Homo sapiens: one gene and its partners. The protein of the gene in region 5 purifies or fractionates together with the protein of the main gene of each other region. This does not show direct contact. Each region holds a gene or a part of one and is shown on either strand. Other genes may lie near its edges.

What was found.
Region 1: the proteins of CFAP298 (region 5) and SERPINB7 purify together in Homo sapiens (affinity purification with mass spectrometry; 2 studies listed by BioGRID and IntAct, with this or other methods). This does not show direct contact.
Region 2: the proteins of CFAP298 (region 5) and GLRX purify together in Homo sapiens (affinity purification with mass spectrometry; 3 studies listed by BioGRID and IntAct, with this or other methods). This does not show direct contact.
Region 3: the proteins of CFAP298 (region 5) and CDSN purify together in Homo sapiens (affinity purification with mass spectrometry; 3 studies listed by BioGRID and IntAct, with this or other methods). This does not show direct contact.
Region 4: the proteins of CFAP298 (region 5) and SERPINB8 purify together in Homo sapiens (affinity purification with mass spectrometry; 3 studies listed by BioGRID and IntAct, with this or other methods). This does not show direct contact.
Region 6: the proteins of CFAP298 (region 5) and ZC3H4 purify together in Homo sapiens (affinity purification with mass spectrometry; one large-scale study listed by BioGRID and IntAct). This does not show direct contact.
Region 7: the proteins of CFAP298 (region 5) and FLG purify together in Homo sapiens (affinity purification with mass spectrometry; 3 studies listed by BioGRID and IntAct, with this or other methods). This does not show direct contact.

Annotation. Positions count from the first base shown.
Region 1 is NC_000018.10:63,785,418-63,788,917, forward strand, and holds part of SERPINB7 (serpin B7), read left to right. Parts: intron 1-3,500. UniProt on the Homo sapiens protein: Might function as an inhibitor of Lys-specific proteases. Might influence the maturation of megakaryocytes via its action as a serpin.
Region 2 is NC_000005.10:95,816,538-95,819,726, reverse strand, and holds part of GLRX (glutaredoxin-1), read left to right. Parts: intron 1-3,100; coding exon 3,101-3,189. UniProt on the Homo sapiens protein: Has a glutathione-disulfide oxidoreductase activity in the presence of NADPH and glutathione reductase. Reduces low molecular weight disulfides and proteins.
Region 3 is NC_000006.12:31,117,647-31,121,936, reverse strand, and holds the start of CDSN (corneodesmosin precursor), read left to right. Parts: upstream 1-1,490; 5' UTR 1,491-1,517; coding exon 1,518-1,602; intron 1,603-4,290. UniProt on the Homo sapiens protein: Important for the epidermal barrier integrity.
Region 4 is NC_000018.10:63,987,081-63,989,874, forward strand, and holds the end of SERPINB8 (serpin B8), read left to right. Parts: coding exon 1-198; 3' UTR 199-2,294; downstream 2,295-2,794. UniProt on the Homo sapiens protein: Has an important role in epithelial desmosome-mediated cell-cell adhesion.
Region 5 is NC_000021.9:32,598,854-32,602,377, reverse strand, and holds the end of CFAP298 (cilia- and flagella-associated protein 298), read left to right. Parts: exon of another isoform or gene 1-10; coding exon 11-106; coding exon of another isoform or gene 107-154; exon of another isoform or gene 155-404; coding exon 405-515; 3' UTR 516-3,024; downstream 3,025-3,524. UniProt on the Homo sapiens protein: Plays a role in motile cilium function, possibly by acting on outer dynein arm assembly. Seems to be important for initiation rather than maintenance of cilium motility.
Region 6 is NC_000019.10:47,093,277-47,096,776, reverse strand, and holds part of ZC3H4 (zinc finger CCCH domain-containing protein 4), read left to right. Parts: intron 1-2,168; coding exon 2,169-2,388; intron 2,389-2,696; coding exon 2,697-2,807; intron 2,808-3,500. UniProt on the Homo sapiens protein: RNA-binding protein that suppresses transcription of long non-coding RNAs (lncRNAs). LncRNAs are defined as transcripts more than 200 nucleotides that are not translated into protein.
Region 7 is NC_000001.11:152,322,440-152,326,625, forward strand, and holds the start of FLG (filaggrin), read right to left. Parts: upstream 2,801-4,186; 5' UTR 2,750-2,800; intron 1-2,749.

The DNA of each region.
Region 1 (3,500 bases), on a different chromosome or scaffold from region 5:
CAATCCTTCCCAATAACTTTAAAATATTTTTGCTTTCTGACAAGACGTTCTGGGCTTGTCTTGAGTTATCTTAGCTCCAAAAGGAGCTCAGCTATTCCTCATGAAACTCTGGCTCATTTACTCTATTAAATATATAGTATAGAGTAAATATATATGTTTACTTGATTAAAGTCAAGAATCAGTGTGCTTGAGGTTCAATGCAGTTGAAGTGCCATGAAGGCTGCTCACCATTTGAGTGAAAGAGCTGGAAAAGCGTATTTACTGACAAAGTCATGGGTTCAGACTCATGGTTTCTTTTTGTTGTTGTGTTTTGTTTTTTTTGTGTGTGTTTTTATTTTCATTTAGATCTAATAATGCTGTTCTTTCTTATAGTGTTTGAATATAAAAGTATTAAAAAGTGATTTTCCTATTTCGTAAGCTACTTACTCCTCTCTTCTCTCACAAGACATTTCCATTGAAATGCTTTATATATATATATAATATACGTATATATACACATATATAATATACGTATATATACACATATATAATATACTTATATATACACATATATAATATACGTATATATACACATATATAATATACGTATATATACACATATATAATATACGTATATATACACATATATATAATATATGTATATATAATATACTTATATATACATATATACATATAATATAAGTATATATATGTATATATGTATATATATACGTATATACATATATACACACACACACACACACACACACCAGCATGGCACATGGCACACACACACCAGCATGGCACATACGTGTATATATATATATATATATATATACACACACACACATCCACACATTTCCTTTGAAATGCATTATTTTATATATTATATATAGTTTGGATTACACGTTTGGATTATATATGTATGAGAGCCATATGTTTGGACTTCCTTCTCTCAACGTTTCCATTGAAATACATTATGAAATATATACGTATACACACACGCATATATATATTTTTCTAAAGTTATGTTTGGATTACAATATTATTTAAAAGTTGTACAAATTTGTATTTTCTAAAATGCAACTGAGTTTTACAAAAAGCATTTAAAAATAATCACTATAATATATTACGTATTCTACCACTCTCTAAGACGAAATAATAGTTTCATAATTTGGCATGAATATGCAGGTAGAAGCCCAAGGATGATTCATAGTATCTTTTTTTTTAAAAAAAATCCTTAATCCAAATGTCCTGAAATTTCTTAGACTGTATAGACTCATGATTTTCCTCATTGCCATCATCTGAATTCATAAACCATTTATCAGAAAGAAAAATTCTGATTTCCCTACATAAGCACATGAGGGAACATGAAAGTATAGCACACTTTGTATTTCAGATAGAAACACCAAAGAATTAGATAAGAAAAGTAAGAAGAGGAAGAATTGTGATAAACAAGCCCTTTGAAGTTTTATCTAATATTTATCACACATAAATATTTACTGTAGGTTGAATATCCCTTATCTAAAATGCCTGGGACCAAGTGTTTTGGATTTTGGATTTTTTCCCATTTGGGATTTTTTTAGATTTCAGCAAGTTTGTTTATACATGAGATGGGATAAGACCCAGGTATAAACATGAAATTCATTTATGTTTCATATACAACCTATACATATAGCATGAAGGTAATTTTATACTACATTTTAAATCTTTTTATTAATGAAACAAAGTTTTGACCGTGACACATCACATGAGGTCACATATGGAATTTTCTACTTGCGTCATGTTGATGCTCAAAAATTTCAGAATTTGGAGCATTTTGGATTTTGGATTAGGATGCTCCACCTGTAGCATCATTATGTGTCTTTAGTCATGGTAGTTTTACTGTTGAATCTACAATTTCTTGGATTTTTGTAAAGATAAAAACAGATATGTATCATTTCAATATTTGACACTTCTGTTTACTAAGATTCAATTAGGAATATCAGAAAATCAACCAAATTCATATCAAAAGAGAGTAATATTAGTAATGATCAAAGAACGATGTTAAATATTTAAACTTATTAAAACTTTATTCAAAAAGTTAAGGAGAATGACTTCTGGATAGTTATATAATTTTAAAATTATTGCCTGGGTGCCACAAGCATTATCTCAGAAAAGATGTTAGTATGTTTGAATCACTTTAACATGGTATTTTATATTTTTGTTCCATGCACATATTCCTAAATAATTCTTTCCAATGGTAGCTTTAGGACTATTAAAAACAAAACAAAACAAAACAAAAACCAAAAAAGAATTGCAGGGAGTTGTTAAAAAGTTACAGTCTGTCTTAAGAAAAATTTTGGCTAATGAGAAGGGGAGATTCCTTTCTCTGCAAGGCTTCACATGAATTACTACATTCTTTTTACGAGGTACAGTCACAGTCCACATAATGACATTTTGGTCTATGATGGACCACATATATGAGGGCAGTACCGTCAAATTATAATGAAACTGAGGTATTACTATTGTCTAGTGATGTTGCAGCCATCATAATATCATAGCGAAATGCATTACTCATGTGTTTGTAGTGATGCTGGCATAAGCCAACCTACTGGACTGCCAGTTGTAGAAAAGCCCAACACATACAATGATGTACAGTACGTAATGCTTGATAATGGTGACTATTACTGATTTATGCATTTACAACAGTATACTTTTAGTAGTTATTTTAAAGTGTACTCCTTCTACTTACGAAAAATAAAAGTTCGCTGTGGAACAGCCTCAGACAGACCCTTCAGGAGTGATTCCAGAAGGAGGCATTGTTATCATAGGATATGATGGTGCCATGCGTGGTAATGCTCCGAAGACCTTTCAGTGGGACAAGACGTGAAGGAAAAAGACAGTGATATTGACAATCCTGACTCTGTGTAGGCCTAGGCTAAAGTGTTTATGTCTTACTTATTCACAAAAAAGTTTAAAAAGTTAAAAAATTAAATAAATACAGCTCATAGGATAAGAATATAAAGAAAAAATATAATTGTACTGTTGTATGATGTCTTTGTGTTTTAAGACTAGTGTTGTTACAAAAGAATCAAAATGTTTTTAAAAAATAAGAAGTTTATAAAGTAAAAAAGTTAAAGTAAGCCAAAGTTAACTTATTACTGAAAACAAAAATATTCTTTATAAATGTAGTGTAGCCTAAGTGTACAGTGCTTGTGAAGTCTACAGCGGTGTACAGTAACATCCTAGGCCTTCACACTCATTAGTCACTCGCTGACTCACCCAGTGCCACTTCCTGTCTTGCAAGTGCCATTCATGGGAAGTGCCTATACTGTTTTACCAGTTTTCATCTTTCATACAGTTTTTTACTATACCTTTTCTATTCTTAGATGTATTTAATACACAGATATTTACCATTGTGTTACAACTACCTACAGTCTTCAGTACAGTAACATGCTATACAGGTTTGTATTTGGGAGCAATAGGCTATACCATGTAGCCAAGTTGTATAGTAGGCCATACCATCTAGGTTTGCATGA
Region 2 (3,189 bases), on a different chromosome or scaffold from region 5:
GGGTTTTCACTGTGTTAGCCAGGATGGTCTCAATCTCCTGACCTCGTGATCCACCCGCCTCAGCCTCCCAAAGTGCTGGGATTACAGGCGTGAGCCACGGCGCCCGGCCTGATCCTGCAGTCTTAATTATTCTATAAAGTAGCTGTATCTAGTAGGTAATCAGCAGGACATGATTATGGAAAGTTAGTGGCTTCAATCAAGCCATGTACTTGGTAAAACCTGTTTTTGTTTTGCTATAGTCACAGCTCCTAAATTAGTGCCTTCATTTATTTCTCCTCTAATGCACTTTTCTTTACATAGATCTGAGTTTCTGAACTATATCATTTCCCTTCTCTCTGAAGAACTTCTTTGGGCATTTCTTGCAAGGTGATTCCATTGGTAACACATTCCCTCAAGTTTTGTTTACCTTAGAAAGTATTTCTCCTTCGCATTTGAATGATGATTTTACTGGATGCAACAAATATTTTTAAGCACCTACTATGTACCAGACACTTTTATGTACATTGGGGAAAAAATTCTGCCTTTTCTGCCATGAAAAAAACCCTTCTGCCTTTGTTGAACCTATATTCTAGTGGGGGAGACAAACAAATACAGTAATAAAACAGTATGTTGGGAGTTGGTAAGTGGCACGTGCTATGAGGAAAAGTAGGAAAGGTAGGGAGGAAGCATCAGGGTCCAGTTTTAAATGGAGCCATTGGGTCTCACTGAGAAGGGAACATTCGAGCAGATATCTATAGGAGCTGAGGGAGATGGGTGTACACAATTTACAGGTAGAGTGAATGCAAAGGTCCTGGGGTAGACGTTTGCCTGGCAGGTTTGTGGAATAGTAAGGAAGCCAGTATAGTTGCAGCACTGTGAGCCAGTAGGAGAGTTAGTGGAGGTGAGGTCTGAGAGCTAATAGGAGCTTGGAAGAACTGTGACTGGTACTCGGTGTGAGATGAGATGCCCCTGGTGGGTGCTGAGCAGACGAGTCACTTGATCTGACCCCATTTTGAAAGGGCCACTCTGGCAGCTGTGGGGAGAAGAGACAGTAGGGCAAAGGTGAAGGTTGAAGCTGGGAGACATTGGGAGGCTATAGTAGTTATTCAGGTGACAGATGAAGGTGGCTTATACCAGGGAGGTAGCCGAGGAGTGTTGAGAAATTGCTTTTGAGTAGTTGCATTTGTGTAACCCTAGCTAGCGTACAGGAGATGTTGCCTGGCTGAGGCTGGGGAAACCTAGTGCAGGAGAATAAGAACCACAGGATTACCAAACTCGTTTTGGGGTGGCAGTTCTTTCCTCTCCTTGACAGTAGCGGACTCTCAAGTTCCTCTAAAGAGGAGGCTGGGACGGGAAGGGACAGGAGGGGAAGCAGCACAGGGTATTTCCTCTTCTTTGCTCAACTTTATCAACAGTACTTCTTGCTTTGGTTTCACTGCCACAGCACCCCCGTGCCGTCTGTACAGCCTGCCATTCAGCTCCCGTTAGGGGTACCATTCACTGATACGATTTATGGCAGTTTTGCAGTTGTCCAGACTAGAGGATGGGTGTGAGGGTAAAGGAGCCTTTCGCTTCTTTGCCAGACACTGAGCACAAAACTCCACGCTGGGAGCAGCCTGGTCACATTTCAGGGTCATCTCAGGAGGCTGGGGGGCAGCTCCAGGGCTGTGGGTTTTCAAAGCCTCAGTTATCCTGTGAGAGCACAGGGAATAGCCATGGAAATGTGCAAGATTTGTTTTTAATTTTTAGACTTTATTTTTAATGCCTACCTTCACCCAGACCCCCTTTTTAATAAAAGTGCTGTAAGAACTTATCCACAATAATGAAGCCCCTTTTCTCACCTTTCTCACTTTTTGGACAATTTGCTCCAATTATTATGCTTTCTGAGGAAAGCCCAAAGCTTTGAAAAATAGTCTCATTGCTTTCTGCCTCCACCTCTCCCTCCCCTCCAGTGCGTTCCTGGTACTCGGGGAGAGGCCCGCTGGCTCTGATGACGCGGTGACCTCCATGGGGCTTTTTTCTTCACTGCCAGGCAGCCTTGGTGGAACACTCCTGGCCTATAAATTCAGCCACGTTGAGGGTATTTCCTCCTCCCTCGCGATTCTAAAAGCCCTCTGGAATTCTGGAATGTGTCTGCTCCTAGCAGCAGGGAGGAAGTGTGTAACTAGAGAGGAGCCTATTCAGCAGGTGTCATGACTGTGGCTTGGCGTGGGTGACGCACCCTCATCCGGGGTGAGTTAACCATCTTATGATGGACCAGCGATTAAAGGAGACTCAAACACCACTACACCCCCCTGGTTGAGGACAGAGCTCACTTGTGTTGCTTTGTTTTGCTTTCTTTGTTTTGCTCTGTCGTCCAGGTGTGAGTGCAATGGCACCATCACAGCTTACTGCAGCCTCGACCTCCCGGGCCAAAGCAATCCTTCCACTTCAGCCTCCTGAGTAGCTGGGACTACAGGCATGCACCGCCATGCCTGGCTAATTTTTGTATTTTTTGTAGAGACGGGGTCTCACGATGTTACCTAGGCTAGTCTTGAACTCCTGGGCTCAAGCGACCCTCCCACCTCAGCCTCACAAAAGTAGTAGGATTACATTCATGAGCCACTGTGCCTGGCCCTCACCTGTGTTTTAACAACACAGAGAGATGATTGTACTTAATAAACCATGGACCTGAAAAATCAGAGACGTAATGCAAATACTTTTCCAGCTGTATTTAGAAACGAACTCCTTCCTTCCTGATTGCTGTGACCCAGTTTACAATCTTAGGTGTGGTCCCTGATGCAGAGAAAGCAGAGTTCAATCTAGGTGGTCTGACTGCAGCCAATCAGAATTCTCCTTCTGAAACATGTTTCTGTAGAGTGAAATTTTTAAATCCCTTTGACAAGTTGGACAAGCTCATGCATAGCACACAACTTGAAAACTCTTCTGGCGTAAAAACATTCTCGAGTTAATAATGTTACCCCTTATAACAGAAAGGAAGTCCTGTCCTGTGAGCATATACATAAGGAGGTTTTAAAGTGATTTGAAAAGTTTGGAATCACGGGAAATATTTAGTGGTAGGATAGAAATGTTCTGTCTAATCTAGTAATGTAGTAATGTCCTGGGTCGTGTGCTTTTTTAGGTGCCTCGAGTCTTTATTGGTAAAGATTGTATAGGCGGATGCAGTGATCTAGTCTCTTTGCAACAGAGTGGGGAACTGCTGACGCGGCT
Region 3 (4,290 bases), on a different chromosome or scaffold from region 5:
AAGACTAGATGGCAGCCACTAGCTGCACGTGGCCAACCACATCATTACAATTAATTAAAATTAAAGCTCCAAATCTTTGGTGGTTAAACTTGCTCCATGTGGCCAGTGGCTACCGTATCGGACAGCACAGACAGGAAACATTTCCATCCTCCTGCTGGTCTGAACTTAAAGGGCGGTCAGGAGGTAGAGGGAATGGGAGAGACCAGGCCAAGGGGCCCAGGGACAGAGCTGCCTTTGTGAGGAGATGAGGTTTGGGAAGTGAGTTTGGGTGAGGGGAGCAGGGGTGTCTGAGGCCTGGGGGAGGAGAGGGCAGCTTGCTGGACTCCCAGGCACCTCCCTCCGATACTGATACTCCCGCAATACTAGTGAGCAATTAATTGGCTGGGGCGGGGCAGGGGCCAGAGCAGGAGGGAGGCCAACGCAATGGAGGAGAAGCCACCACCCTCTCAGCAGATGGCAGGGCTCCGGTTCTCCTGGCCTCCTTTCATCCTTTGAGGACCCGGGAGCCTGCCTGGCCCTCCTCGACCTGCCCAGAGCTGGCTGCTGCTTCCTGCTCGCTCATCCAGCCCAGGGCCAGCAGATGGGCTATGGGGCCACCACCTTCCCAATTAGCCTTCTTAGCCTCTTGCTCACCCTTGAGGTCTGGGTTACCAGCCATGGGGAGGGGCTGTGAGTGCCCTGTGAGTAACCAAGGCCCAGCTTTGACAGAGGTCATCAGCCCAGGCCCCTCCCCTGGCTGAGCCCTGGCTCCCAGCACCCCCCCACCCCCGCCACCATGCCGTCCCCAGAGGCCCCCAGAAGCGACAGGTCAGGGAGTTGGTTTTGGGAATGTGGTGCCCCATTTCTGAGAAGGAGAAAGTTCCCCAGGTGATGGAACACGTAATAGGTATGTGGCTGGCCTGGTACTTGGGGAGTGGTGGGAGGGGGAGCCTGGGGGATGGGGGCAGAACTCATATTTGAAGGAGGAAAGTGGAGGTGGAGTGATGGGGTCCTAAGGAAGGAGCAGATCAGGGGCTGTGAATGGGACCTCATTGGGGTTGGGTGGGTGGGGCTGGAGCGGGCACCCAAGTGTGGAAGAAAAAGCTGAAACACCCACGACTGCGAGTGGAGGGCAGATGGAGAGACAGGCCAAGCTACGGTAGGCAGGAGAGTTAAGGAGCCAGGCAGCTGGGTCCCGTGGCAAGAGTGGCCGCCCCAGAGTGGGTGGCCGTGGGGCAGAGCGCCTGGTTCCGGGTTAGGCAATGAGGAGCCGGGGCCAGGCCTGTCAGGTGGCAGGATCGTTAGAGCCCCGTGGCCATGGGTACCCCACACTGCAGCCACTGCTGCTGCTGAGTAGGCAGATGCACCGGGCTGATTACCACGCTCCTCCCGGCCACACCAACTTCCCCTGGGGCACCCACCCCCTCCACCTCTCCTCCTCTCCCCACAGTGACTCCTGCCCAGGGAATGTCCAGCTCTGGCATAAAGGACCCGGGTGTCCTTGAGCTGCCATCAGTCAGGAGGCCGTGCAGTCCGAGATGGGCTCGTCTCGGGCACCCTGGATGGGGCGTGTGGGTGGGCACGGGATGATGGCACTGCTGCTGGCTGGTCTCCTCCTGCCAGGTAGGAGGCTGGGGGCCCTGGGAACAGGAGGGAGGCGGGAGGGAGACTCCGGGAGAGGACCCAGCGAAGGGGACAGGCAGGGGCTCTGGAATCTGCCTTTTGAGTCTGGGGGTTGCTCCTCACTGTATGGTCGCCTCAGGTAAGTTTCTTAAACTTCCTGAGCCCCAGTTTCTGAAACTCTGAAGTGGGGTTAATGACACCTAACTCTAGTCTGTGTGTCTCAAATTAAATAATGTATGTGATATGTACTTTGGAAATTCTAGAGGTTTATATAAATGGTGGTGGTGATTTTTATTATGGGAGCACTACAAGATAATGATTGGACATTTAATAGTAATAATATCATTTTTAGAGCCTTTTTATATGCTAGACTCTGTTTTAAGCACATTTGGATTATATATTAGAACTTTTATTTTTATTTTTTTTTGTGAGATGGAGTCCCACTCTGTCTCCAAGGCTGGAGTGCAGTGGCGTAATCTCGGCTCACTGCAACTTCCACCTCTCAGGTTCAAGCGACTCTCATGCCTCAGCCTCTAGAGTAGCTGGGACTACAGGTGCCCATCACCACACCTGGCTAATTTTCTTTTTTTTGTATTTTTAGTAGAAACAGGGTTTCACCATTTTGGTCAAGCTGGTCTTGAACTCCTGACTCAAGTGATCCGCTCGCCTCAGCCTCCCAAGGTGCTGGGATTACAGGCATGAGCCACCACACCCGGCCTATATTAGCACTTTTGATCATTACAAGAACGGTATGAAAGGAGATTTGCTATTTCCACTCTACAGATGAGGACACTGAGGCTCAGAGAAGTTAGGAAAGTAGCTCAAGATCATGCATTAGAAGGCAGCAAAGCCAAGATTTCAACCCCAGGCCGGGCAACCCCTGGACCTGTGTTGTTGACCACCGGGTACTTATAGCCCTTGAGGAATTTCTGCGACCTTCCCATGGTCTAGTGGGTGGTTGGTGTCTGAGGGAATAGCGAAAGAGAGAGGCAATGCATGGTGGATTCGTGCAGAGGACTGAAGGGAATTGGCACAGCTGGGGTTCGGCGTGGAGGTGCATGCAGAGAATTTCTTTCTGAGGAGAGAACAGGGACATCACAGAGGATGGCAGTCTGGTTGTTGGTGGAGGGATCAGGATGAGTGGCAGTAATAATTCATAATATATAATGCTTTACACTTTCTAAAACATCTGGCCGCACATGATAGCTTGTGCCTGTAATCCCAACATTTCAGGAGGCCAAGGCAGGTGAATCGCCTGAGGTTAGGAGTTCAAGACCAGCCTGGCCAAGATGGTGAAACCCCCTCTCTACTAAAAATACAAAAAATTAGCTGGGTGTGGTGGCGGGCACCTGTGGTCCCAGCTACTTGGGAGGCTGAGGCAGGAGAATCGCTTGCACCAAGGAGGCAGAGGTTACAGTGAGCTGAGACCGTGTTATTGCACTTTAGCCTGGGCAACAAGAAACTCCATCTCACAAAAAAAAAAAAAAAAAAGAAGAAGAAGAAAAAACTTCCAGGTGGATGATCTCATTTAGTTTTCTTCATAGTAATGCTGTGGGAAGGCAGGGAAAATTTGGCCCCTCTGAATGTATAAACTAAAGCTCAGAGAGGTTCAGTAACTTGCTAGTATGTGGCTCTGTTTGTAACACGTGGGACCTGGAGGGGCTAGGGAAGGCAGAAGGAACGCAGGTGAAAGAGTCATGGAGGAACCACGGGGTAAGTTGGGCCTGGGGTTTTGAGCAAAGGAAAGGAAAGATAAGGAAAGATGTGGCTCCACATCCCTGAGGGAAGTCAAGGCAGCAGAAGTCAGATGAGGGGCTGGACAGAGGCAGGTGTGCTCAGAGAGGGAAGCTGATTGTGGCCAGGAGCCTCGGAGGTTCGTGGGGTTTCGTCCTGGTTCCCTGGGCTGGGCCAGCGAGAGCAGGGCTGGCTCAGGGTGCGGTGTCCTGACACACTGGTACCAGCAGGTTCTGAAGCAACAGGTAGTGACCCCACATCCTGGCCCCCACCCAGCTTTACTGGCATGGCCAGTGCTGAGATAGGAAATAGGGTTTCCATTCCTGACCCCAGCCTGGGCTCTCACGAAGAAGCTGGTGACCAAATCTTAGTCCTCGAGTGCCCTTTCCTTTATTTCAGCCCCTCTGCCCCCAGCTTTGTCTTTTTCCAGTGTCTCCTTCTATATGTGTCTCCACTTCTCAGCCCTCCATTGTTTTGCCTTTTGTCTTCTTCCCTTTGGTCCCACTGTCTGGCCCAGGATTTTTCCCCTAAGAATTTACGCCTGGACTCCTCAGAGCCTCAGTTTCCCCAATTCTCTGTCTCTTCAGGGTCCTTTCTTTTAGACCTACTTGTTCCTGCCCCTTCTCCATTCCCTCTTCTTTTTAAAAAAAATTTTAATTAAAAAACAAAATACAGACGGGGTCTATGTTGCCCAGGCTGGTCTTGAACTCTGGGGCGCATGCAATCCTCCCACCTCGGCCTCCCAAAGTGCTGGGATTACCGGCGTGAGCCACTGTGCCCAGCCCCCTCTTATATTCAATGTATTCCTTTGAGGCCACTCACTTTGGCACCTAATTTTCTATTTTTCTGGTTGGTGTTTGCCCACCCTTCCCAAACAAAGAAATGCCTTTATTCGGCCACCTCAATATCCTTTAGAGACAATAGCCAGTTCTTCCTCCTTTCTCCATCCCTAAA
Region 4 (2,794 bases), on a different chromosome or scaffold from region 5:
CTGTCCAAGGTTGCCCACAAGTGCTTCGTGGAGGTCAATGAGGAAGGCACAGAGGCTGCCGCAGCCACTGCTGTGGTCAGGAATTCCCGGTGCAGCAGAATGGAGCCAAGATTCTGTGCAGACCACCCTTTTCTTTTCTTCATCAGGCACCACAAAACCAACTGCATCTTGTTCTGTGGCAGGTTCTCTTCTCCGTAAAGAGGAGCAATTGCTGTACATACCCTCCTTTCCTTCTACCTATCTTGCCTTAATTAACATTCCCTGTGACCTAGTTGGTGCAGTGGCTTGAATGCCAAAATAAAGCGTGTGCACTGGATAGTGTGTGAAAGTCTTTGCTGAAAGTTCCAGAGCCATTGAGAATAACTGAGGCCGCAGATGCATGAAATTTGGGCCTGGGAAGGCTATGCTGGTTTTGGAGTGTTTGGGGTGCCTGCCATTGCCTCTGCCTTCACCTAAGTCTGTGCCCATTGTTTCAGGGGATCTTATGGAGCATCTCAGGGCTTCAGGAGCCAGCCCTCTTCCATCCGCCCGGCTCTGCCCACCACCACTGCCAGGCTGAACAGGGGACTAGTGCCCAGGTGACACTGCACACAAAGCCAAGGGCAAACCCTATAGAGTAAAGCTGCAGCCACCCTGTGTCTCATGTGCAGCTGAAATAGTGATCTGCTTCTGTCACTGTCACATAGACAGCCCTGCATGCCCCCTGTCTCACACAGTTTGTAATGAAGACAGCTCCTTCTCATCTTTCCATAAGCCTGAGATACAAGTTCAGGGACTCAGCAATGCACTTTAGGACTGAGCTAGGAGGCAAATATCTGAAGCTTGCTATGCTGTTCTTTCCATTCCTTTTCCCTCTGAAACACACAAAATACCAAAGGAACTTACGCAACACACCACTGAGTCCTCTAACTAATCATATGTGCTCAGACACAGCTCAAGCACACCCCTTAGTTAAGAAAGAACCTCCATATACATTAATTTTTTTCTGCCTAAAAATAAAATTGCGTTGTGGCAGCAATTTGGAAACTACAGCAAAGTCTCCAAAAAAATTGAAGTCACCCACAATTCCAACACACAGCAATCACTGCTGTTAATAGTGATATACATCCTTCCCTATTATGTGTATGCAAATAGAAATTTATAAGCATTTTACTACAAGTTAATCATATCCTTCAGTAGCTTATTTCTTCCCTTATGAAAAACCTCCCTTAAGATCTTTCCAGGTCATCAATTTGATGTGCATAGTATTCCACTGTGTGGCTGGATTTCTATAATTGAATCTAATTTTAGACAGTTTGAGTAATTAAAATTATTTCTATTAACAAATAATAGATTGCTAATAATATATATTATGCTGTTTTGGATATACTAAATATTTGCTCACATCCTTAATATATTTTTTAAAATTCCTAACAATAGTACTGTTGAGATAAAAGTTGAGCACATTTTGAGACTTCTTCCAAATTGGTCCCTAGAAAGTTACACTGGTTTGTACTCTCACTTATGTCACTGTTTATACCACCACTGACTGCTGCCTGCTTTATTATTTCTTTAATGAGTTGGACTGAACAGTGGTTAATCCTGACTCTGTTTTTGACTGACAGTTAACAGTTACATGAACCATTCATATTACAGCTCTTACTTAAATTTGACCAAGCCAGGATATATCTGTTAGGCCACATTCATTTAGGGATCATGTTTTCCAAAGCAGGTTTGGGCAAAATTAATCCACAGGACTGAAAGGTATACATCTGTGAGTTTTGTTCTCACTTCCACCTCTAATTTGAAGAACACTTTAATTGACACAGAATACATTTCACATATTTAACCTCTACAATAAGTTCTGACACATTTTCCATGAAACAAACCATCGCTATATTCAAGATAATGAACCTATCTATCATACTCCCAAATTCCTTCTTGCATCTTTGTAATTTCTCACTCTTCCTTCTCCCTCTCCCCGTCCCATCCCAACCACTGATCTGCTCAGGCAACTACCAATCTTCTTTCTGTCACTATAGATTAATTTGCATTTTTAAAGAAATTTACATACATGGAACCATACATCATCTATGCTTTGTAGTATGACTCCTGTCACTCAGTACAATTATTTTGAGATTCATTTATGTTATTGTATGTATCAATAGTTCATCCCTTTTATTGGTAAGTAACATTTTTTTGTATAGGTATACCATGATTTGTTGATGAACAAATTTACCTGTTGATGAACATTTACGTTGTTACCAAGATTTTTGCTATTGAAAATAAAGTTTTTATGAATATTTATATATATACATCTTTGTATGGACATATGTCTTCATTTCTTTTGTATATAGATACATAGAAGTAGAATGGCTGGGTCATATGGAAGGTGTAAGTTTAACTTTTTAAGGATCTGCCAAATTGCCTTTGAAAGTGGTTGTATCATTTAACATTCCCAGTAAAGCCTAGGAGAGTTCTGGTTTTTCTCTCTTCTCACCAATACTTGGTACTACCAGTGTTGTTACTTTCAGCGTGTACCGGCTTTTGGTTGCATTTCCCTAATGCCTAATTATGTTCAGCATTTAAAAAAATGTGCTTAGGCCGGGCGCGGTGGCTCACGCCTGTAATCCCAGCACTTTGGGAGGCCGAGGCGGGCGGATCACGAGGTAAGGAGATCGAGACCATCCCGGCTAAAACGGTGAAACCCCGTCTCTACTAAAAATACAAAAAATTAGCTGGGCGTAGTGGTGGGCGCCTGTAGTCCCAGCTACTCGGGAGGCTGAGGCAGGAGAATGGCGTGAACCCGGGAGGC
Region 5 (3,524 bases):
CTCTTTGCAGAGGGGACAGGGAGCTCCAGCCCGAGAGCCTATTATTAGCAGTGAGGAGCAGAAGCAGCTGATGCTGTACTATCACAGAAGACAAGAGGAGCTCAAGGTAGCAGGGGACAGATGGGCTTTCTGCAGTGCTGGCGCCCACACATAGCCTGTGTGCCTTACCTGGGGCTGCTGGGGAGCAGTGAGCTCTGCAGAATGCCGGGGAGGGGTCTTTCTAGAGCTTCTGTCTGCAGGTCTGTCGGGGTCCTGCCAGGTGTCCCCTGGTGTTAGACATGGCAGTATCCTGCTCCTAGAGGGCAGGGAGAGGGGGAGGTCAGTCATGGACTCTTTCTTCAGTCTCTTTATGTGCAAAACACTTTCCTGAAATGCCTGCCTGAATAAAACATACTTATTTCCAGAGATTGGAAGAAAATGATGATGATGCCTATTTAAACTCACCATGGGCGGATAACACTGCTTTGAAAAGACATTTTCATGGAGTGAAAGACATAAAGTGGAGACCAAGATGAAGTTCACCAGCTGATGACACTTCCAAAGAGATTAGCTCACCTTTCTCCTAGGCAATTATAATTTAAAAAAAAAAAAAAGGCCACTTACTGCCCTCTGTAAAAGATGTTAACATTTCTAGTTTTCTTTTAGTGTGAATTTTTAAAATAGCAGTTATTCAAGGTTTTAGAACTTAATAAATACCTAGTCAGAAGAAAATGTGTAAATCGTTTTTGTTTCAGGACTATTTAGTATGTCATGGTTTTCTTTGATAAAATACTAAACTTTTGGCCGGGCGCGGTGGCTCACGCCTGTAATCCCAGCACTTTGGGAGGCCGAGGCAGGCAGATCACGAGGTCAGGAGATCAAGACCATCCAGGCTAACACGGTGAAACCCCGTCTCTACTAAAAATACAAAAAATTAGCCGGGCATGGTGGCAGGCGCCTGTAGTCCCAGCTACTCGGGAGGCTGAGGCAGGAGAATGGCGTGAACCCGGGAGGTGGAGCTTACAGTGAGCCAAGATCACTGCCACTGCACTCTATCCTGGGCAACAGAGCGAAACTCTTGTCTCAAAAAAAAAAAAAAAAAAAAAAAAAGCTACACTTTTTTTTCTTCCTGATTGTTTTATATTCTCATGATAACTGGTTTATTGGAGGAAAGCTGATGACTGGCAGTGACCACTAGTGACCACTAGATGCCGCCAGGCACTCAGCATGCTTTTTCTCCTGGCCCTCTAGATCTATTGGAAGCTGAACTCCCAGCCTTGCTGGAGAGACTTCTCTAACCCTGCTGCGGGGTCTAACTGTAGCCTTCTTTAACCCTGCTGCGGGGTCTAACTGTAGCCTTCTTTAACCCTGCTGCGGGGTCTAACTGTAGCCAGGCGTTGCCTGGCCTTGAAGGTGAAGTTTGCCTCCTGGTTGGTGCCTCTCTGGCCTTGTATTCTGGGAGCGAAAGCTACAACCATGATGAAGGTTGAGTAGCAAACTCATCTGACTTTGAAACTTAAATTCTTCTGGAGTTTCTCAGCTTCTCAAGTCTCCTTCATGAGAATAGATCCTGAAAACAAATCCAGATCCCGGTAGAGGGTGATGATTTCTCCCTATGGATGCGGGGTCTGATTCTAGGCCAGCTTCGTACGCAGCTCAGTGACCAACCACGGGATGGATGGGATCACTATCATCCTAACTGAGTATCTAGGACACCATTGAGTTTAAAGACTCCAACTCATCATCACTGTAAACCATCCAAGTATCCTGCAAACCCTGGCACTTTAGCATCTGAAAGACACCTGCCAGACTGCCTGTGGCAGTCCCTCATGCTTGACTTTTGGTGCCTAGGGTCCTGTTCTCCTGGTTAGAGGGAACTTGGTGTGCTCACACTGAGGGAAAGTGAAGGACGCGGGGCATCTTCCTGCCCTGGCCTTCCTGCCTTGGTGCCTGCGCTCCCCACCATCCTGCAAAGAGGAACCCTGGGAGTGAGTGGAGGTGGCAGGGGTTTGGTTCCTGCCTGCTGCCAGGCGGCCTTGCCCAGGGGGTGGGTCCCAGACCTGAGAGCAAAGCGCTGTTCTCTGAAGTGCTTTGTAGCTGACTGCATCTTGTGCCTTACTCTTTTGGTTGATTTTCAAATTTTGTAAAAGCAAATTTGCATCTATTTTCTCTTTTACTTGGTTATAGTTTTAAATGTCTCTATGAAAGGGTTTTGACCTTGGATGATGTAGTATATGCAATAAGATGCTGTGATTTTATTTCAGGAGCATCCTGTCTTTGTCAGTGTATAGTTCGTGTGTGTTAAATTCATGCTCAGACTTGTAAGAAACAGTTAACCAAGCCATGTGATCATAGTAGCTCTTTTCAGGGAACTACTACTTCAATATCATTAGAAAGTCTTACTGAGCCTGCAGTAGGAATACTCTTTTGGCCGTGATAGTTATCCCATTGCTTCATGTAATCAGCAGAACTTACTAACCAAAAAGTCACTCACGCATGACACTACACTCCTTAAATACCCATGCGAGAAGAACCATCCTCTCTCCCTGCCCTTGTCTGCCTCAAAAGCCTCTCTGAGCTTGGTGTGTTTGGGTGCAGCAGATCTCAGGAAGTACGTGAGTAGCTTATTTGCAAGCCATCTGTGACGGCGGGGGGCAGGTGGTGCCCGCTGTGGCACCGTGCTGTGTGTGTTCCCTTTGCATCCACTTGCTGACTCACCCAAGGTCACAGGTAGCTAGTGGTGGTAGGACCACAGGGTCACGTCCAGGAACTTTCCCAGGATTTCCCAAGAAATCAATTTATCAACAAAAGTAATCTTGCCAGTGTTAGACCACTGATCAGCTTAAGTCTGTGGTCTTGTTGTTATTTTCTTCTTTTTTTAATCCAGTCCCTGTTTGAGTCAATATCAAAAGGAAACCAAGTGTCTGCTGTATGCACGGTGCCCATCTAGGTCTGTGGTTTTGTCCTTTGACATAACTTGTCTTCTTATGTGGTTCTTTCATGGAGACCAGGAATGCTAGTAATAAAATTTGATACCACCTAAAACCTTTTCGACCATCAAACTGACAGCATCAGGCAGTATTTCTGTCACAAGATTACCTCGTTCCTTGGCAACTGCTCTGCAAAGAGTGTGCCATCAAGCTTGAAATGAACTGCCACATACTTGGAGCACAGTAGCCTTGAGAGGGTCTGAGCTCACTAAATTCCCTTCCAAAGCCTCAGCAACCACCCCCTTGAAGAAGTGACCAGAGAGAGCTGCTTGCCCCGACCTCTTGCCGTTCCTTGCAAGATAGGAGTTGCCCCTCTACACTACCAAAAACCCACTGGCCCTGGACAGGGCTCAAGGAGAGAGGTGGCTGATTTCCAGGAGAAGTTCGATACTAGACATAACAGTAACGGCAGCTGGCATTATGGGGACTTTGCTATTTCCCAGACGGTTGTACTAAGCACTTTACCTATATATTCTTTTCGTTTATACCTAAAAACAGCCAAATTAGAAAGAAACTACTATTGTCATCTCACGAGTTAGGAAACCAAAGTCCAGA
Region 6 (3,500 bases), on a different chromosome or scaffold from region 5:
GCATTTAAAATATTAGTGGCCTGGGTGGTGATCATGTCCCTCTCAGCTTTATCCCTTCTAGACTTAAGTGTCGAGAGTAATGTTGTTCTTAGCTTTTCTTTATGGAACCCCAGCATGTATACCTCCAGTCTGTCCCGGGCCTTCTCCCGCTCAGTCTGTCCGTCTCTCCCTTTCTCTTGAGGTGTGGCCCTGGCCTGCCCCCAGTATTCCCATCAGGGTGCCACCTCCCAGTGTCTGCACAGCTCCTGGCGGCGGGCAGTTTGCCATGTCACTGAGTAACAGCTTCTCCCTTGGGACAAAACCAGTTTTCCCAGTCATGTGGCCCTTTTCGGTGTGGGTGAGGTGTCCAGTGAGGACTTTGCTCCACGCCTGGTTTCTGTGGGCCGCACCCCAGCGGGAAGGCACCTCCCTTGTCAGGACTGCAGCCTGCACCCCCGCCCCATTCCAAGTTTGCTAGTCGGGGAAGCAACACAAGGTGCACATGGGTCAGGTCACCTGTGTTGTTGACTTTGAAGCAGCAGAAAGAGTTTTGTGTCCTGCATTCTGTTTTGAGAGTTGCCCTTGACCTCTGCCCAGGGGTATCTGTGGGGCTGGGCCACTTGGGTTTGAAATAGAACCCATCCCCTTTGAACTGGGAGTGAGAGTTCATAGAAAAAGCTGCTCTTGAGGCGCTCCTTGATGTTTGGGTAGCAGCCCCAAGGCAGACAAAGGGAGGGACATAAGCGAAAGGACAGTGGAGGGTCCTGGGAGGAGGAGTCTGCCACATGCCCTGGAACCTTCAGGCAAGCACGCCTAATACATTGGCTCCCGCTTGGGCAGCTGCGGGCCTTTCCGCAGAGATAGCTCCATTTGTGGCTAACCTTTTGGGGCCTGGGCTCGTGATGTTTCCTCCTTACATCACTTCTCTTTGTGTCCTAGTTAATTGAGACGGAAGGAGTTGGATGCTCTCACGCAAGCCTTTTTGTGGTCATTCATGGGGAACTTTGGGAGCTTTTTAAAATTATTCAAAAAGATTGTTTTTTTCCTTTACCAACTCCTGTACTTGTGAACACTGTGTCTGTGGGTTTGGCTCAAAAACTGGATTCTTTTTCCAGCCTCCCCCTCCTGAACCCAATTTCTTCCTCACTCCTACCCCACCCCATAGATATTTACATATGCAGAATGTCCACTGGGCAGTGTCTGTCATGTTTGGAGAGCACTTTTAAAGTCCTGGAGATTGGGGTGACACGGGGGAATTGGAAGAGTGTAGGATGGGGAGCCAGAAGGGGTTCCACTATCTGGAGGTGAGTCAGAGGAGGGAGAGAAAGCAGGGCCGGTATCATGTGAGGCCCTCAGGAGGGGCCTGGGATCCGTCCCCCCTCCTCCAGCTGCTCAGTGTTTGCTTGCCTCCGGCCTAGAGGTGTGGGACTGACGAGGGTGGGTCAGACCTTGTGACCTGGGACTCTGAGCCTGTTTCCAGCGGTTCTCATGGGGCTTTTGTAATAAAGTACTTGGAGGGTTCTCAGGCCACAGCCCAGGCCTGCCTGTGGGTGGGTCCCAGGTAGCTTGGGGCCACCCCTGGTTCAGAACCAAGGCCCTCTCCACGGTGCACAGCCACCGCCCTCAGCCTCAGGTGGCACTGACGCCCAGCTCACTGGGGCCCGGGGCCCAGCAGGCAATCCTGGGCCTGGGAGGGAGGGGATGTGGGTCTGTGCTCCCTGGGAGAGAGACTTCTGTGGTCAAGCAAGGTTTAGAAGTGCCCCAAGTGCTTCACAGCAGAGCTGTGTGGGTTTCTGGACTATGGGGCTTCCTGGAAGTTGTGCAGCGTTAAGCATTATGAATCCCCAAGATGGGGCTCTTCCTGCTTATGTGACCACAGCACCTTGTCGGTTTCTTCTTCTAAGAACACTAGTTCTGTTGGGAAATCTGGCGTAGATGTGTCCCGGTGTTAGTGGTAATGCCCTTAAACTCCTACCCCTCCCCCAGCCAGGTTAGACTGGAGCAAGCACAGTTCTTTCAGGGGGAGGATAAGGGATGGAACAAGAGGCCATGGCCCCCATGTCCTCCCAGGGTCTCACTTCGCTCACAGCAGTCAGGCCTTCGGTTCCTGTCAGCCTTGGCCAGCCCAGAGCCCTAGGAGGTCTCCTCTCAAACCCTGTGTTCATGGTGGGATTGGGGTTTGTTTGTAGGGAAGATGGAGAGTTGGAAGAAGGTGAATTGGAAGATGATGGGGCAGAGGAGACCCAGGATACCTCCGGAGGGCCTGAGAGAAGCCGGAAAGAAAAGGGGGAGAAGCATCACAGTGATTCGGATGAGGAGAAGTCCCACAGGAGACTGAAGCGGAAACGGAAGAAAGAGCGGGAGAAAGAGAAAAGGAGGTCGAAGAAGAGGAGGAAATCCAAGCACAAAGTAGGTCGGAGATCCCCTGGGACTGCCACTGCCTGGCATTGGGCCTGGCTGAGAGCCCCAGGGGCTGAGCTTTTGCTGTCCACCCCAGAGGGCACTCTTAATGCCTTTGCTTATCTCAAATTGGATAAAGACCTTTTTTAAAAGAGTTGGTAGCTTATGCTTCATTGCCACTAAGTGCCCCAGGTGAGGTGTTTCAGGTGAAGCGCAGAGCCCTGCGGCACATGCCAGCATAGTTTGTCCTGAGGCTGACTGTGCCCGAGTGGCCTGCCTGTGGCAGGTTGCTGAGTCTCCTTCCCCTGTCATTACAGCGCCATGCTTCTTCTAGCGATGACTTCTCTGACTTCTCAGATGACTCGGATTTCAGCCCCAGTGAGAAAGGTCACCGCAAGTACAGAGAGTACAGCCCCCCATATGCGCCGGTGAGTGACTGGCATGCACTGCTGAGCTCTGGGGCCGGGAGGAGTTCAACTGCTTGTGTTTCTTGAGCACTTGCTGTGTTCTGGGCATTTTTTGTGAGTTTCAGTCCTGGGCCATCAGGTATTAATTTAATCCCCATTTTATGAGTGAGGAAACTGAAACTTAGACAATTTCAACAAGGCAGCCCAGACAACCAAGTGAGACCCCACAAAAAATAAAAAAATTAACCAGGCATGCCTGTAGTTCCAGCTACTCAGGAGGCAGAGGTGAGAAGATCCCTTGAGCCCAGAAGTTTAAGGTTGCAGTGAGCTATGATCAGCCACTGTACTCTAGCCTGGGTGACAGACAGAGCAAGATCCTGTCTCAAAAGGAAAAGAAAATTTCAACAGGGTTGCCCAGCTCTCTGAAGTAAAGGAGCTGGGATTTGAACCCAGGCCCTAGCTGACCTCCATGAGGCATGTTCTCGAGCCTCCTCCATGCGGCCTTAGCAAGGCCCTGTATGTCTCAGAGAAAGATGCTGACTGGTCCACGTCACGGCTGACTGGCTTCCACTGTTCACAAATGACCTTTTTGGGAAATTGGCAAGAGAATGAAATGTTCTCAAGTAGCCAGTAGGCAGAGGTTAGATACTCAGCCACTGTCGCTCTCATTTCAAGCAGCAATTTAAATTATTTGTTCAGTTTGTATACCATTTC
Region 7 (4,186 bases), on a different chromosome or scaffold from region 5:
AATCAATTGTATTTCTATATAACAGCAATAAACACTTAGAAAATGAAATAAGAAAAGATGCTATTTACAAAAGCATAAAAAAATCAGAAAAATTTTAGGAATAAATCTAATTAAAGATATGAAATGGCTGTACTCAGAATATTATAAAAGTTGAGATTATAAGTGCTGAGAAAATGAAATAGGAAAGGAGGCTATTCATAAAAGCATAAAAAAAGAGGAAATTTTTAGGAATAAATCTAAGAAAACATGAAAGAGCTATACTCAGAAAATTATAAATATTGAGATAAAGATTTAAATAAATGGACAATATATAGCTTGTTTATGAACTGAAAGTCTAAATAGCATTAAGATATCAAATCTCCTTAAATTCATTTATAGATGCAATGAAATCCCATTCTGAATATCTGAAGTTTTTTTAAAAAATAAAGATTAATAAGGTGATTTCTAAAATTTATATGAAAATGTAGAGGGCTAAGATTAGGTAAGACCATCTTTAAGAAGACTAAGTTGGAAGACATACCAGATAGCAAGGTGTGTTATAAAGGAAGAAAATATGGCATGATGCAAGGCTAAACAAATGGAATGATAAAAGATAATAGTATAAAGTCAGTCTTATATCACTCTGGACATTTGGTTAATGGCAAAGATGGTAGTGTAGGTCAGTAGAGAAAGAATAGTCTTGAATAAATGGTGCTGGGTTAATTGAATTTTCAAATGGAAAAAAAATAGTTTCCAGGTTGATTTTACATGTAAGAGATAAACGAAGATAACATTGGAGAATATCTTCAGGACCTCGGGGTGGGGAAATACTTAAATAAAATTCAAAAAGTACTAATTAATAAGAAAAAGACTGATAAATTGTACTGCATTAAAAGTAGGAATGTTTATTCTTTTAAAGATAGCATTAGAAGAGAGATGTACAAGCCACACAGTGGGAGGATATACAAAACACATTTAACCAATAAAGGAATCTGTCCTGAATATAAAAATAGCTTCTATAAATCAATAAAAAATACAGTTAACTCAATGGAAAAATGAATACCTTAGGAACGTTACAGAAAAGGATATCCAAATGGCCAATAAACATATCAAAACTTCTCAACCTTGTTATGCACTAGGGAAATGCAAATTGAAATAACGTGTGAGACCTCAATACACCCACCAAAGTGACTAAAAAGATAAGAAAGAAAAAAATCCTTGACAATACCAAATATTGGTGAGAATGTGGAGAATTGAGATTTTTTTTTTTTTTATGTACTGCTGGAGGCACATAAAGTGACAGAAGCACTTTGGAAAATTGTTTGACAGTATCTAAGTCCTAGCGATTTACTCTTAGGAATATTCCCAACTGAAATATGTACATATGTGTAACCAAAAGTAGTACACAAAAAAGTGCATAGCCCTATTATTTATAATACCCCCCAAAATGGAAGAGACCCAAGTATCTACCCATAGACAAATGGATGAATAAATTGTTATATTTTCAGATAACATAATAGTCAGTGTTGGGAGATGAAGGTAGACTGGACTAGGATGATAATGGCAGAGAGGGGGATAAATGGATAGATTTGGCAGGTTTGTAGGCAGAGTTGACTGGACGTGGTGATGAATCAGTGTGATGAGAAAACAGGAATCATGGATAACTTCTAGATTTTGGTATGAGCAAACAGTTATTTCTCGTTATTTCTATTATTTCCATCATCTTTCACATAAAAGAATGCAGTCTCTCCCTGCTCCTGCTCTTGCCTTCCTATATTCCTGTTTTCCACGTAGCAGCCCAGAGTGGTCTTTTAAAAACATAGATTATCTTACTCCTCCTGCTTAATACCCCTTTAAGTACATGCTAAAATCTAACATGTACTGTTTTAATTCTACTGTGCCCCTCTTTACATGAGCTACGCTGTCTAGCTCTCTGACATCACCATATACCACTGGTCCTCTTTTTAACTATGTATGCTCTAAGGCACACTAGCTTCTTTTTGCTCTTTGGGACAAGTTTACTCTTGCTTAGAATCTTGCCCTTTGCCTTGGCTAGTTTCTTTTGTGTTTAAGATCTCAACTCAAAGATAATTCCCTAGAGAGGTCTTCCCCTGGCCATCTAATTTAAAGCACTTTCCTCCTCCCTCCCATCACTTTACTACAAGCTTGTCCAATCTGTGGCCCAGGACAGCTTTGAATGTGGCCCAACACAAATTTGTAAACTTTCTTAAAACATTACGAGTTTTTTTTTAAGCTTATCAGCTATTATTAGTGTCAGTGTGTTTTATGTGTGGCCCAAGACAATTCTTTTTCCATTATGACCCAGGGAAGCCAAAAGACGGGACACCCCTGCTCTACTACATCACTCTTTTATTTTCTTCATTGTTCTTATCACTATTTAAAATTATCTTATTTGTTTATTGTTGTTTACTAAATGTTTCCCCCTATTAAAGGTAAGCTGCTAGGAGTTTATATAGTTCACTGCTGCATAGATAGAGCCAAGACCAAGTAGAAGGTAGTTAATACATATTTGTTAAGTAAATGAATAAATGGACAATCTAACAATACAGAGTATTGAGTAGCTCCATGGAAAGCAAATTTATGCCCTCATTTTCCTTCTATATAGAAATAAACCTTTTAGTGACAGTGCCACTAAAAAGAAAGAGAAAAACCCTAAACTTCCAGAACCTTTTGCCTTACAGTACACATACATTCAGATTTCCACCTTGGTTAATAGTAAGTAGACAAAATTAAATGTATTCCTTCTTACCTTGTTCACCAAAAGAGCAAATAGAATGTAGCCTGAAGGAGCCTGCTGGGTACTGAAGGCTGAGATAATGGCCCTTTTATAGCAGGCCCCATGCAGGGAGGAGCCACCCTCTGTGGGATGGTCTGATTCATTCCTAACCAAACCTAGATCCACCCATATCTCCACCTCTATTTCTCCAGCAACCTGTGTTTACTTCCCAGCTTCCTCACGTACTCATCTGTACTTGTTTCAGCAAGTTCCAAATTTGGGTTTACATATTGGAAATTTTATGGAAGGGTCCCTTTGGCTAATACAGGTTGTTTGTGTGCAGGGCCCATACCTACTTTTCTGTAACCCCACTTTGGCTTGACAGGTGCTTGGTAAATATCTATTGATAAATACACTTCCTGATCCTTGTCTCTAGAAGAGTAGGACATATTAATACGTTTATAAGAACTTGAAATTCAATTTATGATAGGAAAACATCACAAGCATCTACATATATGTTCTTTTTTAATCTATGTATTCCATCTTTGGGTACTGAAGAACTTGCCATGAGATGAATGCCGTCTTCTAGAAATTATGGTCAGTAGAGGATAGGCAAATTTAATTTTAATTTTTCAAAGCAGAGCAAGAATGTGAACAATTGAACTAGAAGTGGTGATCACTAGGAGCATGAGTTTAATTAGGCAAGACTCATTAGTGTAATTTTACTTTGTTTTCAAGGTTATTACATCGTGGCATCAGAGACATGTTCCACATACTCTTCCTTCTTAAACCATGAATTTTCTTTTATTGCCATAAATATACAGGGGACTCCTATCCCTGGTCTGTCTTATGATATACACACTGTTATGTTGAGCAGATTGCATCTCCATATGGATGTCCCATGGTTATCTCAATCCATAGTGTTGAAAACTGAACTTACATTGTGCCTCCTACCAAAATGTACTATCCTCCAGAAGCCCATATATTGGTAATGATGCCCCCACACACTGGGTGTCTCAAGCTAGACAAAGTCATTTTCATTTCTCCTTTTCCTTAACCCCTCATGCTCATGTCACATCGTATCAATTATACTCAGGCTTAGATTTTGTTATGTAGGCCTATTCTCTACCTCCAGTGCTATAATTTTAGTTCTGGACCTGACCATCTTTCAATTGGGTATTGGTAAAGAAAAAAAAGTGTCGTAACTAGCCTCTCTCTCTACTATTAAGCTGGCTTACCATCTTATGTCATTCGCTGTGCTGGTTTCTTCTTGCCTGCAGAATTTCAGACTTTTTTACCTGACGTACAAGCCCCTTTACAATAGGCATGAATCTGTATCTTTTCAATTGTCCCTCTTATTACCTGTATCTCATGGAAAAGTCACTCTAGAATGAGCAATATTTCTTGGACGAGCCCATATTGGTCCACTACTGTTCAAAATCTTTGCGTGCTATCCTCCACTACCTTGAC